Linked DNA regions of Homo sapiens. The protein of the gene in region 2 interacts with the protein of the main gene of each other region in a pairwise test. Each region holds a gene or a part of one and is shown on either strand. Other genes may lie near its edges.

Region 1 (7,438 bases), on a different chromosome or scaffold from region 2:
TAGAAGCCATTATCCTTAGAAAGCTAATACAGGAACAGAAAACCAAATACCACATATTCTCACTTATAAGTGGGAGCTAAATGCTAAGAACAAATGGACACATAGAGGGGAACAAAACAACTGGAGATTATCAGAGAGAGGAGGGAGGAGATCGGGAAAAATAACTATTGAGTACTAGGCTTAGTACCTGGGTGACAATCTGCACAACACACCCCTGTGGCACGAATTTACCTATATAACGAACCTGTACATGTACCCGTAAACCTAAAATAAAAGCTTTTTATTGAAAAAGAAAGTATAGTATCTTAATTTCTACTCTTTGTTACAAATTATATACTAGATCCATTTTTCTAATAACTTAATTTTTTGTCAAGCTAAATACACGCCACTTTCAGGATGTTTACCTTTCTGATACTCTACTCTGGGGGTGTGTATGACTCATTTAAGTGTGATGACAAATTTACTAAGCATTGACTAAAAGTGAGAGTCAAGCCATGTTTTATTATTACACTGGGAATTGCTATAAAAATTCATAAAATTCTCTACCAATACTGATAAAACATTTATTATAAATGTCATAAAATTTTGCTACCAATACTCTTCATCAAAGTTTCCTACCAATATTGATTTTCATGCCAAGATTAAATTACATTCTGTATGTATTTAAGTATGGATAAATGTGAAATGACAAGGAACCCTTAACCCCCCGTGTTCAACACTGTACAGAACCCAAGAGCGAGGGAAGATCAATAAAGCTTAAAGCAAACTCTATGTGAATAAGTTCCTAACGTAATTATCTGCAAAAAGTATAAATAAGAATAGCCAAAAAGCCAAGACTTCAAATTTATCCACTGGGAAATTTGTGTGTATTTTGGATTAAATATCTAATGAACTAAGATGCATGCAATACGGAGAATGTTGCTGCTTTATGACCAGATAATCTCTCGCCTACGTCTCCTGCCTCACCCCTCACCCATCCCTATCTCAAAACTCCATCCAGCCTTATTTTCTTGATTTGTCTTCCTTCAGAAGTTCTAAACCCTCAAATGTCTTCAATCCTCTGTGCTATCCCCCATTCCTGAAAGACAAGTCCCCTCAAGCTTCACCTGGATAATTTCTGCTCTCCTTCCAGACTGAATTTTTTTTTTTTTTTTTTTTTTTTTTTTTTTTTTTTGAGTTGGAGCTTTGCTCTGTCTCCCAGGCTGGAGTGCAGAGGCCCGATCTCAGCTCACTGCAACCTCCGCCTCCTGGGCTCAAGCTATGATCCTGCCTCAGCCTCCCAAGTAGCTGGGATTACAGGCGTGCACCACCACACCCAGCTAATTTTTGTACTTTTAGTAGAGATGGGGTTTTACCATGTTGGCCAGGCTGGTCTCGAACTCTTGACCTAGGTGATCCACCCACCTCAGCCTCCCAAAGTGCTGGGATTACAGGCGTGAATCAATGCGCCCGGCCCTTCCAGACTGATTTTCAGCCCACATGTCATACTTCCAGGATGCTGTTTTTAGTCCTGGCCAACTCTGGAAGAAGCATGCACCCCTTTGGGTTGCTCTCAAAATTTCCTCAACTTTCCTTCTCATACCACTTAATCAGCCTGAGCTTTAATTGCCTGGATACTTGTCTGTTACCTCGTTGTCTACTCATCACTGCAACTCCAGTGCCTAGCTCAGAATCATCAGATGGCAAGCACTCAGTTAACACACATGTTCAATCAGTAACCAGACTTTTGGTCCAGCCCAAGGTAGCCATCCTGATAAATGATGATGGAAAATACCTCTGCAAGCACTGGAGCCTCTCATCTCAAGAAACTCCAAGAGCATTTCTGAAGAGAGCAAATATCTAACCATATTATTTAACTTGATTTGTTTCAAATAATCAAAATAATCAGGGAGAATTTTCAGCCTCCAGGTGAAACAAACTATGTTTTCTAAAATTTGGTTAAATCAGTTATTTATTTTTAAAAAAATCAGAGAAATGGTCCGGGTGCAGTGGCTCATGCCTGTAATCCCAGCACTTTGGGAGGCAGAGGCGGGAGGATCTCAAGGTCAGGAGATTGAGATCATCCTTGCTAACATGGTGAAACCCTGTTTCTACTAAAAACACATAAAATTAGCTGGTTGTGACAGCACGCGCCTGTAATCCCAGCTACTCAGGAGGCTGAGGCAGGAGAATTGTTTGAACCCATGAGGCGGAGTTTGCAGTGAGCCGAAATCGTGCCATTGCACTCCAGCCTGGGTGACAGAGCGAGACTCTGTCTCTCTCTCACACACACACACACACACACAAAATCAGAGAAATGTAGATTTTCTAGGAAACTGCCAGTTAAGTTCATCTCTCCAGCTCTTAGTATGTGGCAGGCATTTGTTCTAAGGGCTTTATCCATGTTTACTAATTTAGTTCTCACAACATCAGATGAATGGGTACTACTGCTATGATCCTTTCCATCTAACAGATGAAGAAGCTGAGGAACAAAGAAGTTAAGTAGCTTTCCCAAGCCCACACAGCCAGCAATTTGAGAAGCTAAAAATCAGAACCTCAAGCTATCATTACACTCCACTGTCCCCTGAGCTATGCTAAAATGCACTTTGCAGACCCCATACTTCAGGCATATCGAGACCACCCCTCATCATCAGAGCTGGCAGACAAACTCAGGTGCAGCCAGTGGGATTTAATGTACCTAAGAGGTGCGTGTGCATGTGTGTGTATCCATACCCACATTTTCCCAAAGAAATTGCTGTATTATTATGTCTAACACTTTTTATCATGGCTCCAAAGGAATCATCACATCCTAAAGAGAAGCCATGTTCACAGTTAAATGTTCCAAACCTCTACATAGCAACCAAACAGAGACCTTTGCAGACATCCCCAGTAGTCCACTGGGAGGCATTTTAACGAAAGATATAAAAGAAAGGGGAATGTCTATGGAGAGGGAATCTATACCTTGGAGGCTTCAGGCTTTGGCAGACGGCTTTCCTCCCAAGTCCACCTTGTCGCAAGTAGGAGACACTCAGAAAAGATCACTACAGCATCTTTTCCCGATAACGGAAGCCTCCACAGACTTAACGTTATCTTTGCCTTATGCAACACTTTAGAGGACTTGGTGAAAGTGTTTTGCGGGCTGACTGACCAGTGTGCTAATCACATCTGCATTTGGGGCCTCGCTGATCCATTGTGTTTCCCCAGGGCTTAGTGATGATTAGGAAACTGGTGTGAGGGATAACTGTCTTCTGGCTTTCAGATGTTGCTTAACACATTGCTGGAACAGGAAACACAAGCAACAATATGGGTAGACAAGTGGGAAGAGGTTGTGGGTTGGAGGTAGAACAGTGTTAGGTGCATAGCAAGAAGAGACAAAGTCACACTGTAAGAGAAGCATCTGGAGGAGGGAGGTGGTCACTCAGGCACTTATTTTACATGATGTGCCAGCAACGGTGCTATGTACCTTATATGCGTGATGACATTCAATTCTTACATGCTTAGAGAGGTTAATTACTTTGCCCAATATCACAGATATAATAATAATGCTAATTATTGTTTAAATGTATTAAATGGTTACTACATACAGGTCATTGTTCTGAATGCTTTACATATGTTAATTCATCTCATCCTCACAATAACCCAGGACCCAGGTACTACTATTAACCCGATGTTATGGTAGAGAAAACTATGGTATAGAAATGTTACCCAGCTTTCCTAAAATTTAACTGGAAAAGCCCTGTGCAAAATCTCTGTTTTGTACAATGGTGAAGCCCGAAGTGTGCCTGTTATCCTAATATGATTGTTAAAACCCCTCCTTTCAGTTTCTTTTTTGTTTTTTGGTTTTTTTAGGTTTTTTGTATTTGTTTGTTTGTTTCGTTTGTTTATTGAGATGGCGTCTCACTCTGTCATCCAGGCTGGAATGCAATGGTGCAATCTTGGCTTACTGCAACCTCCGCCTCCCGGGTTCAAGCAATTCTCCTGTTCCAGCCTCCTGAATAGCTGCAACTACAGGCATGCACCACCACTCCCAGCTAATTTTTGTATTTTTAGTAGAGACAGGGTTTCACCGTATTGGTCATGCTGGTCTCGAACTCCTGACCTCCGGTGATTCACCTGCCTCAGCCTCCCAAAGTGCTGGGATTACAGGCATGAGCCATCGCGCCCGGCCTCCTTTCAGTTTCAAAAGTGGCCAAATTATATGCTTATCCTAAATAAATGTCCTAAAATAGGCAATAGAAAGATCAGAGCCAAGTGACAAGGAGTAAGGAAGTAGGTAACGTGAAGATTCAAACCACAATCCTTATGAAGGTCACAGGGCCAGGCCTGAGAGAAAGAATGAGGGCACAGCCCCTGATCCATGCCCCAGGGGAGTCTGTGAGACAGAGAAGAATGTTCACAGCAAGGAAAGCGAGGTCCTAGTCCTACAAACAGGAGCGTCAGTGGGGACGTGATCACAGGAAAGAGAAAGAGGGCCAGTTACCAAGACCAAAACATAGTGTGTGGGCAGAGATTGTGAATATGAAATGAGCAGGGGCCCAGTTGCCAGAAAATTTCTGCACAGGTGCTTCTGCTAAGAGAGCTGGCACCTGAGCCCTAGGGCAGCGGCTCTCCAGGGTCTACATTTAGGAGCGAAGGAAGGGACTGATGAAAGAGAAGACAGAGACAGAGACAGAAGTCAGAAGGAAATAGCCAAAAGGAAGGTGGTAAAGATAAGATCCTTCCCTCCCCGTTTTATCCAGAACCATTGCAAATGGAATACTGAAGAAGAAAGAGATGACAAGAAAATGCCTTCAGCGAAGAAGAGAAAGAAATCTGAAGAAATGAAAGGAAAGAGTGGATGCTTTCAACATGCTCTTTTTGAATTTGGAGCTGTAGAAAAAGCCATGAAAGGAAGTTACTTAAACTCTAAGACTTCGGTTCTCCCATTTGTAAGTTGAAGATCATAGTGCCCACTTTGGGGTATAAAGTATAAATGACAGAATGCATGTAAAGGTCTTAATAACTAAGATCTTCACATGAGTTCAAAGTAAATAATAAAAATGATTGAGCTCTTTCTTCAATTCCTTAGAGAATGATTGTGAGAAACTGCTTTCAAAGGAAGATTCACAAATAAAAATTTAATATACTTACCATGTACAACATGTTTTGACACATGTGTGCATTGTGAAGTCACTAACACAAAGCAGATAATCTACTGATCACATCAGATCACATAATCATCTTTTTTTTTTTTTGGTGGTGGTGGTGAGAACATTTAAGATCTCCTCTCTTAAACTTCAAGTACATAGTACAGTATTAACTTCAGTTATCATGCTGTTCATTAGATCTGCAGAACATATGTATCTGACTGTACCTCATTAAAGCTGAGGGGGGAACAGTAAAATAAATACATAAAAATTATTTTTATTTTTTATGTATTTATTTGAGACAGAGTCTCACTCTGTCACCAGGCTGGAGTGCAGTGGCGCGATCTCAGCTCACTGCAAGCTCCGCCTCCGGGTTCAAGCAATTCTCCTGCCTCAGACTCCCGAGTAGCTGGGACTACAGGCACACACCACAACGCCCAGCTAATTTTTGTATTTTCAGTAGAGATGGGGTTTCACCACGTTGGGCAGGATTGTCTCGATCTCTTGACCTCGTGATCCACCTGCCTCGGCCTCCCAAAGTGCTGGGATTACAGGCATGAGCCACCACGCCCGGCCCCCTATTTTTTCCATTTTTGTAAGTACCTAGTGTATATACTTATGAGGTACATGAGACATTTTGATACAGGCATGAAATGCATAATACTCACATCATGAAGAATGGGGTATCCATCCCCTTAAGCAGTTATCCATTGCATTGCAAACAATCCAATTACACTCTTTATCTTAAAAATGTACAGTTATTGACTACAGTCACCCTGTTTTGCTATCAAATAGTGGGTCTTATTTATTCTATTTTTTTGTACCCATTAACCATCCCCACCTCCCCTCCCAGGCCCCCACTACCCTTCCCAGCCTCTGGTAACCATCCTTCTACTTTCTGTCTTCATGAGTTCAATTGTTTTGGTTTTTAGATCCCACAAGTGAGAACATGTGATGTTTGTTTTTCTGTGCCTGGCTTATTGCACTTGACAGAATGATCTCCAGTTCCATTCATGTTGTTGCAAATGACTGGATCTTATTCTTTTTTATGGCTGATAAATAAAAATAAATAAATTAAAAAATTTTTTAAACAAATTAAAAAGGGAAAAATAGAAGATTCATAGACCTTTTTTCCACTTGCATGCAATATTTCCCAATGGCAAGGAGACATGATCAAGGAGAGACTGACTAGCTTTCAGTGCTGAAATACCTTAAAGAATAATCAAGTTCAAAACTCAAGTAGCAAATTTCCAAAAGGAAAAGGAAATCTTCGAGTGAATTCACCTATAGTCTAGCTATTCATTTACAAGTGCCCCATTTGACTAAAAAGCAATATATTTCTCAAGACTTGCTGGTCTTATCTACTTACTAAATATTATTGCTTGCACTGTCTGTTTTACCCCCCCATACACACTCATGCCCATGTGTGTACATATTAAAATCACATTCTTCATGAAGCAGTACCTTTATATATCTTAACACATGTATAAGCTCTTAAAACACTTAACCACCTAAGGTTTTTGACTTTGGGGTGCATTAAACGTGTTTAATTCATAATTTACCAGTTTATAATGTTGCAAAAGTCACAAGTTGAAATCACGTTGAAATGGCATTAGTTACTATAATTGTAAGATTAATAAAAGATTAAGACGGACAAGGATTGTTGTTCCAAGAGGTCTTGAAATAATGAGCCATCAAATAAAACCAACAATCAGAAACTACCTTTGATTCATTCTTGTTTTGACCTCATGCTGTGTTTTCAAATAAACGAGGAAAATGGACTAGAAATCCAATCTTAGCATTTGAATGAAGGCACTGTTGTTTTAGAGGTCCTAAGAAAACTGGAAGAATTTATCATGTCATTTATTGGTAAACATGGAAATAGCCTAGATAGAAAATGCTAATACAACAGTTCTACTTTCAACTACCTAGTGGAATCTTCTGGGAAGTTTATAAGACATTAAATCAGGATATTTGTCATGAACCCAACATGAAGGTGAACTTTTTTTTTTTTTTTTTTTTGAGACAGTCTTACTCTGTTGCCCAGGCTGGAGTGCCATGGCACAATCTCGGCTCACTGCAGCCTCTGCCTCCCAGGTTCAGGCGATTCTTGTGCCTCAGCCTCCTGAGTAGGTGGGATTACAGGGGCACACCACCATGCCCAGTTAATTTTTCTATTTTTTTTAGTAGAGACAGGGTTTCACCATGTTGACCAGGCTGGTCTTGAACTCCTGGCCTCAAGTAATCCACGCGCCTCAAACTCCCAAGGTGCTAGGATTACAGGCATGAGCCACTGCACTCAGCCCAACACAAACATTTTTTAAAGGTCCCAA
Region 2 (7,023 bases):
ACCTGTGATGTCATCTGCTGTTGGCTTTACATGGCTAAACAGATGCAGAAAGATACCCTCTGAGGGTTCCCCAAACTAACAGCAATTTAAAAACAGAATATAAAGTGTGCTCAGTGGATTTTTACAAATGGTATTCTGCACTTAATGCTGACCAAAAAAAGAGGACTGATTCATAATGTGAGAGTGTCAAGAGTTCTTCAGAGAAAGTGAATAGAAATAAGGGAAAGGAAAGCTGTGCAGTCTCAAATGTGCTAAACTTAAAAAAAAATTTCAAAAAGTTTACAAAAAGCATAAGAGAAAAAATTAGTATATTCTGATAGCTATAGCTTCTGAAAGGAACTCCACTTGAAAATGTAATAGTTAGCAATATCTGAATAAATTTGTGGTTTTCTAGGAAGCTCAAGTTTTAAGAAGCCACTAACAAAAAAAGAAAAAGAAGCAGATGAACTAAGTAGGGAATACACAGAAGTGGAATAAACACAGCCCACGTGTGCCCTCTTCATTCTTCCACTGCTCTCTGTCTGATCAGATCTTTCCAGGACCAGTTCAACTCTCCTCCACAAAACCTTCCTTCTCCAATCCTGATTATACTGACCTCTCCCCCTTCCCAACTCTGTGTATTTGGCAATTACTTTCTTGCCTCCCCAGTTCAACTTTCAGTTATGAGACTGCAAGGCCTATGTCACACACATCTTGGGGTCCCCAGGGTGCCTATAAATAGTGCCTCCTAAAGAGCAGATGATAAACATGTGCCAATGGAATCAAAGAAGCCAACCAGTGTTTTTAGAAGGAGGCTAAAGCAGATATAAAAAAACATAGATTTTGAGTATGCACTGTAAATTATACTAATACCCAATCCAATTCAAATCAATTATGTAACCAGTAGAATGAAGAGGCACAGTCACCTGAAATTGCAAAAATAGCACAGTACCTGCAGGAGACTTTCTATAGCATGAAAGCCTCGAATTAAATTCAGAGCTCCACATAAAAGACTAAGGATAAATCCTACAATCCCTGACAGAGTTGCTGGTTCCAGTCGCTGGTGAGCTGGAAAATAAAAGAAATAGTTAGAAATGAACACCAATACCTCACAAAGATGAACTTAGGTAAAACAGAAATTCACTGCTCAACTTAAATGGGTCAAGCAGATACTTCATAGAATTATTTAACACCATATATTCACAATTAAATACTGTTATAAAATGAAAAATGCTTGACAACATAAAAGCTTCATTTCCCTGAAAAATTAACTTATTTTTCTCTTTTTCCTTTTTTTTTGAGACAGGGTCACAATCACAGCTCGCTACAAGCCTCAAACTCAAGGGCTCAAGCGACCCTCGTGCCTCAGATTCCCGACTATCTACGATTACAGGCACGTGCCACCATGCCTGGCTAATTTTTTCTTGAATTGTTTATAGAGACAGAGTCTCACTATGTTGCCCAAGCTGGTCTTGAACTCCCGGCCTCAAGTGATCCTCTGACCTTGGCCTCCCAAAGTGCTGGTATTACAGGCATGAGACATTGCATCTGGCCTTTCTCTATGTTTTTAACAAAGACATGTAACTTGCATTTGGGATAGACAGTGCTAAGGGATGCTCACAACCGGCAGTAAATCATTTAGAAAAAACCTTACTGCATAAATATGTCTACTATTTGCAGGTAGGTGAAAGTATTTGTAAAGGTGACTTTGCTTGGAAATTCATTGCATAATCCTACTTTTTCTGAAAATGCTTAGGAAACATTTTAAAGTACAAACATAGCTTACTTTTAAGCAAAACTTTGCCTTATCTGGGTTCTAGGGCTATAAATATCACTGGATACATGTGAAAGCTCATATATAATCAGCAATCTGAACTCCAAAACAGAATGGAGTCTTATAGCTATGAAGTTCCTGGTCCTCTGAATAACACTGGAAGGTAAAAATGACAAAACACCAGCTGAATAAGTGACCATTTTAGTTTCATAAATACATTCCCTTATCTTCCAGGGCTGCAGCAGCACAAAAGTTATACAATAGCTTCCCTTCATCATCATCTTACGCTTAATAGAATTAACAACAGGGTCTACATGAAAACACATAACTAAATACATAATCATCTAGACCTCAAACAGGAGACAGAGGGAAAGACAACAGAACCACATTTAGAGTATTTTATTTAAATCACTGAAGTGTAAACGCCCTAACAATTAAGTTAATGAGGTGGAACATTAATATAAGGGCGGGTTTAAATCTCTGCAACTTATATTCAGCCATTATAGCAGAACATCTTCCCTAAACAGTTATAAAAACACAAGAATCTACATATCACAAAAAAGTATTTATTCCCCAAGTTCAGCAGAAAGTGCTTATATAACATTTTCTTAAACTTCTCTGGTGCCCAAGCTGCCTGCTCTCAATCAATTTCCTTGATATTGTAATATGACAACAGAAAATTAAATGTCACTATTCAATATTGCTTCCAAGTGTTATATCAGTAAAGAAAAAAAAATTCACGATTTAAAAATCTATCTAATTCGTCTATACATTTAAAGGCATAAAAGCCTTTAAAAAGCATAAGTCTCCTTTAACAAGAACACAGTACACCTTTGCTGAAGGACAGCTGGCGTTGTGCCAAATCACTGTGGGGAAGAAATTCTAGAGATTCCCCCACTTCCGCCCCCACCCACTTCCCAGGTTCTGTGGCTTGTTCCTTGAGAAGTTATCAAGAGAATACTCCATCTGCCCACAACATAAGAAGGTGACACTTCTTAATAATTTCTCATTTTAACAAACTGAACTAGATATTTAATCACATTTTAATGTATTAACTATTTGTTATTTTTTTTACTTCAGTAAAACAGATTTTAGATCCACTATTATCCAAAAATGCTTAATTTGGCACCATTCTAGGTACTATAATATTTGGTGTAGAATGTTTGTAACAATAACAAATAAGAGGCAGTGTAGAAAAACAATAATTTTGCTGAATCCAAAGCAGTGTCATCTGGTCAGTTTTTGTTTTGCTTTTGTTATTATTGCCTTCTCCTATAAAGTCTTTTCTTTAGTCTTCTTGAACCCAAGGATGGCATGTTGATAACAAAATTAAATGTTTCTGAAAATGTACCAATGGTTTATGGAGACTCTGCAAAAGTTCCTAAAGAAGTAAGAATAAACCCCTTAGAACCAAAGGAACCAAAGAGCTATTGGTTACAGTAAATTAATATATTTATTCAGTAAATACTTTCTGGCATGGTTCTGTGTAAGATGCTATGCTTTCGAAGATACAAAAATTGAATTACATATTCTGCCCTCAAGGCACTTCTAGTCTTTTATAAAAGAGATAAAACAGATAAGTATATGAAAGTAATAAGCATTCTAAGCTAAAAGAGGCAAGGAATGATGAAGTGGAAAGATAAAGTAGGGGGAGGGTGGTCTAGAACCAGGAAAGAGCTTTGAAGATAGATAAAATGTAGTCAGGTACAAAGGGGAAGAAATGCATTCCACGCAGAGAAAAGAATGTGAATGTGATGGAGATGGAAATGGGAGAAACGAGTAACAACAGCATCAACAACTACTACTTCTACCAACAGTGACTGCTCTCAACACGCCAGGCACCAAGTGCTTTATATACTTGGTCTCACTGTATCCTTCCAACAACCCAATGCAGTAGGCACTATAATTATCCTGGTTTTCTGCCCCACCCCGCCCCCTCCCCACCCCTCCCAGAATAGGAAAGGTTTAGGGACATTAAATAATTTGCTCATGGGCACAAAGTAAGTACGTGAACTGGGATTTAGATGATTCTGGAATTCATGTTCTCAGCCATTCTGCTATAGGGCATTGCTAGTGGTTTGGTTTGGCTCAAAGCGATGTTTGTGACAAGTGGGGAGAAATAAGGTCAGAAAGGGAGGTGGACACAAATTGATAGTATACAATTCTAGGCTAAGAATTATGGAAAATTAGACAATGGGGAACCACTGAAGAACAAGATTCTCATATGATGAAGGTTATACTTAAAGAAGATTAATCTATTAATGGGTTGTAAAGAGATCAAAAGTAAGGGAGGGAGAAATAATATTTTTCTGAGTACCTTCTCACTAAGCACCCATTGTCTCATTTACCCTTCAGAATGGCATACTTCATGAGGTAGAAATGACTAACTTCTCTGTGACTGAACTGGAATGACTAACTTTTCTGTGCCTAAACTTTCTCATCTGTCAATTAAGATTAAATTATTTTCTATAAGTCAGACAGCCAGAAGGGCCATCTTCACAATTAGCACTTAGGTCTATCTGACTGCAGAGCCCATGCTCTTTCTACAGTTCTACATTAGGAAGTTTGTGGGAGAGTCACTGCAAAAGACTGACTGAAATCAGGGCCTGAATCAGAATAGTCACAGTAGAAATGGGAATCTGAGTGCTTGGGAGTTCATTAAAGAATAAAGCTAAAATTAAAAAAAAAAAAGAAATGGGGAAAAAGAAGTAAGATGTCATGGAGGTTAAAATTATTAGACTTGGCAACTAATTAGATGTGGCAAACAAAAGGGGGAAAAAAATTCAAAGAAATGTTGAGGTTTTACCTCTAGGTGATCGGAAAGATGAGAGTACTGAGCAACAGATCCACAGGAAGAAACTTAAGTTTGATAAAAAATGGGGACATTTTAACATCATATTTGAGGTGATGGTGGGCCGTGTTTAACAAGCAACTGAAGAATGGAATAGCTGGGAGAAGCAGACGAGGTCTGCAACTGAAGGGAAAGGTTTAAATGAGCGTCAAAGAAAGAAGCAGGCCAAGGGAAATCCTTGGTAAACACTGTCAGTAAGGGATGGAAGAAGAGTCAGGGAAGGCAGATGCAGGAGAATCAAGTGAAACCTAGGAAGGAGAGACCATCAAGAAGAAAGATATGGCTAACAGTGCCTATAGATAGGCCAAAAAAAATCTGACCTTAAAGTAAAAAGTATTAGACTTATTGAACAGGAGATGCTAGGATTCTCCTTAAAATTTTTTTTTTTTTTTCCAGAAAAGTGGTTGAGGGCTTTTTAGATCTCACAAATAAGTGAGAACATGCAATGTTTGTCTTTCTGTGCCTGGCTTATTTTACTTAATGATCTCCAGTTCCCTCCATGCTGTTGCGAATGACTGGATCTCATCTTTTTCATGGATGAACAGTACTCCATTGTGTATATGAACCACATTTTCCTTATCAAATTCAGATTGCAAGAGGTTGAACAACTGGCGATGTTAAGAGGTGGAAGCATTAAGTGAATACTACTGAAGTTAAAGGAGAGAAAAACAGGATGAAAGCTTAACAGAGATAATAGGATTGAGAAAATAATTCTTTTTTCTCTTACAGTGTTGGAGGGAGGGAGGAAGACTTGAATACATACATAGGTGGAATGAAATAATTCAGTGAAGATGAAATAGAAGAATCAAGAAAAAGGAAAAATAATTGATGAAGCAAAGTCCCAGAATAGTCCTTATGACGATTCAAAGAGATGGTACCATTCGAAATCTCAAAGATGCCCACAATGCCTAGGGAAACAGACTGTGGAAGATAAGAGAGAAATTTCAAGTCAGTTCCATCTAAATGAGCCTAATTTATTACTGAAGTGTGACTGAATGAGACTAACAGTCTGGCACAAAAACACACTATTCTTTTCATCAGTGAGGCCCTTCTTTATCATCACCACCTGTAAAAATCATGCATATCCTTCAAGGCTCCAAGACCTGAGTCTTCCTTCTTACCTCTTTTGGAGCATGTATCACATTCTACTTTGTGTTTTACTTATTGGATTGTATTTCCCTTTCTCATTCTGAGTACAGTTAATGTGTTTACTGTATTTCTAAAAAATGCCTCCACAAAATTTAGCATAATACTTTAGAGAAAAAAAATGATAAATACCTGTTGGATTATGAAGGGGATGTGTGTGTGTGTGTGTGTGTGTGTGTGTGTGTGTGTGTGTAAGAAAGAGAGATTAGTAAATCTATTTGGCTTGTGGGCACCAGCCAAAACAGAGCAGCATTTTCAGGCAACTGACAAATTTTCTAGAAAATGATAAAATAGATGAAAAATATACAAGTGTCAAAGAAACTGACAGAAGTGTTTCTATCAGTTTAAACCCTAAATTTAGGGTTTTGTGAAGTTTTTTTTTTAAAGCACAACATAAAAGTAAAAAGACTAACAACACTAAATGTCGGTGAAGATGTTGAGTAATCAAAATGCTCACAAATTGCTTGTTGGGAAAGTAAAATCTTACAACTACTTCAGAAAACTGGCAGTTTCTTAAACAGGCAACCTTTTGACCTATCAATTCCACTCCTAATATTTACTCAAGGGAAATGAAAATATATGTCAACAAAAGGATGAATGTTCATCGTAGCTTTATGTGCAATAACAAAAACTGAAACAAGTTTACGTCCATCAGCAAGAGAATAAATAAACAAATTGTGGTACATTCATACAATGGAATACCGCTCAGGAATAAAAAGGAACAAATTACTGAGACAGGCAACATGTATGTATGACATCATGCTGTGCAAAAGAAGCTGAACACAATAGTCACACAATGTAGTCTTCTTTTATATAAAGTTCTGGAACAAAACAAAGTTCAAGTGGAAAAAAATAAAAACAGTCGTTGTCTAGAGGATGGTGGAAATTGACTGAAAAGGGACACAAAGAAACTTTTCGGGGGAGATGGAAATGTCCTATATTGTGATAAGGGTGTTTAGTAATCATGTCTTTTTATTCTGTATTTTTGATGCTTTGACCTCTTGGGCCTTGCTGACCATGGAAGAACTGCCTCTCCCAGGGATAGCTAATTCCTAGTGATGGCAAACAACTTGTCTGAGTCCACCTTTCATACGCATTCCAATCAATCCAGACTCACACTACCAACCAACTCCTCTACAAGGCTCTCACAGCCAGGGCCATTATTTCCCTATCCCAATCATCCCAGGGCCACATGTCAGACAACCAGAGATAGAACCTATGCCCCAGAGTCCATTGAAATTATTCAAACTAGCCAATCTTAAAACCTCCTTAC

What was found. Proteins that work in one complex are often made in the same cells at the same time.
Region 1: the proteins of SEC22A (region 2) and MS4A3 interact in binary tests that used the Homo sapiens proteins (3 or more experiments, as listed by UniProt).

Annotation. Positions count from the first base shown.
Region 1 is NC_000011.10:60,052,243-60,059,680, reverse strand, and holds the start of MS4A3 (membrane-spanning 4-domains subfamily A member 3), read right to left. Parts: upstream 3,017-7,438; 5' UTR 2,941-3,016; intron 1-2,940. UniProt on the Homo sapiens protein: Hematopoietic modulator for the G1-S cell cycle transition. Modulates the level of phosphorylation of cyclin-dependent kinase 2 (CDK2) through its direct binding to cyclin-dependent kinase inhibitor 3 (CDKN3/KAP).
Region 2 is NC_000003.12:123,239,923-123,246,945, reverse strand, and holds part of SEC22A (vesicle-trafficking protein SEC22a), read right to left. Parts: intron 1,048-7,023; coding exon 932-1,047; intron 1-931. UniProt on the Homo sapiens protein: May be involved in vesicle transport between the ER and the Golgi complex.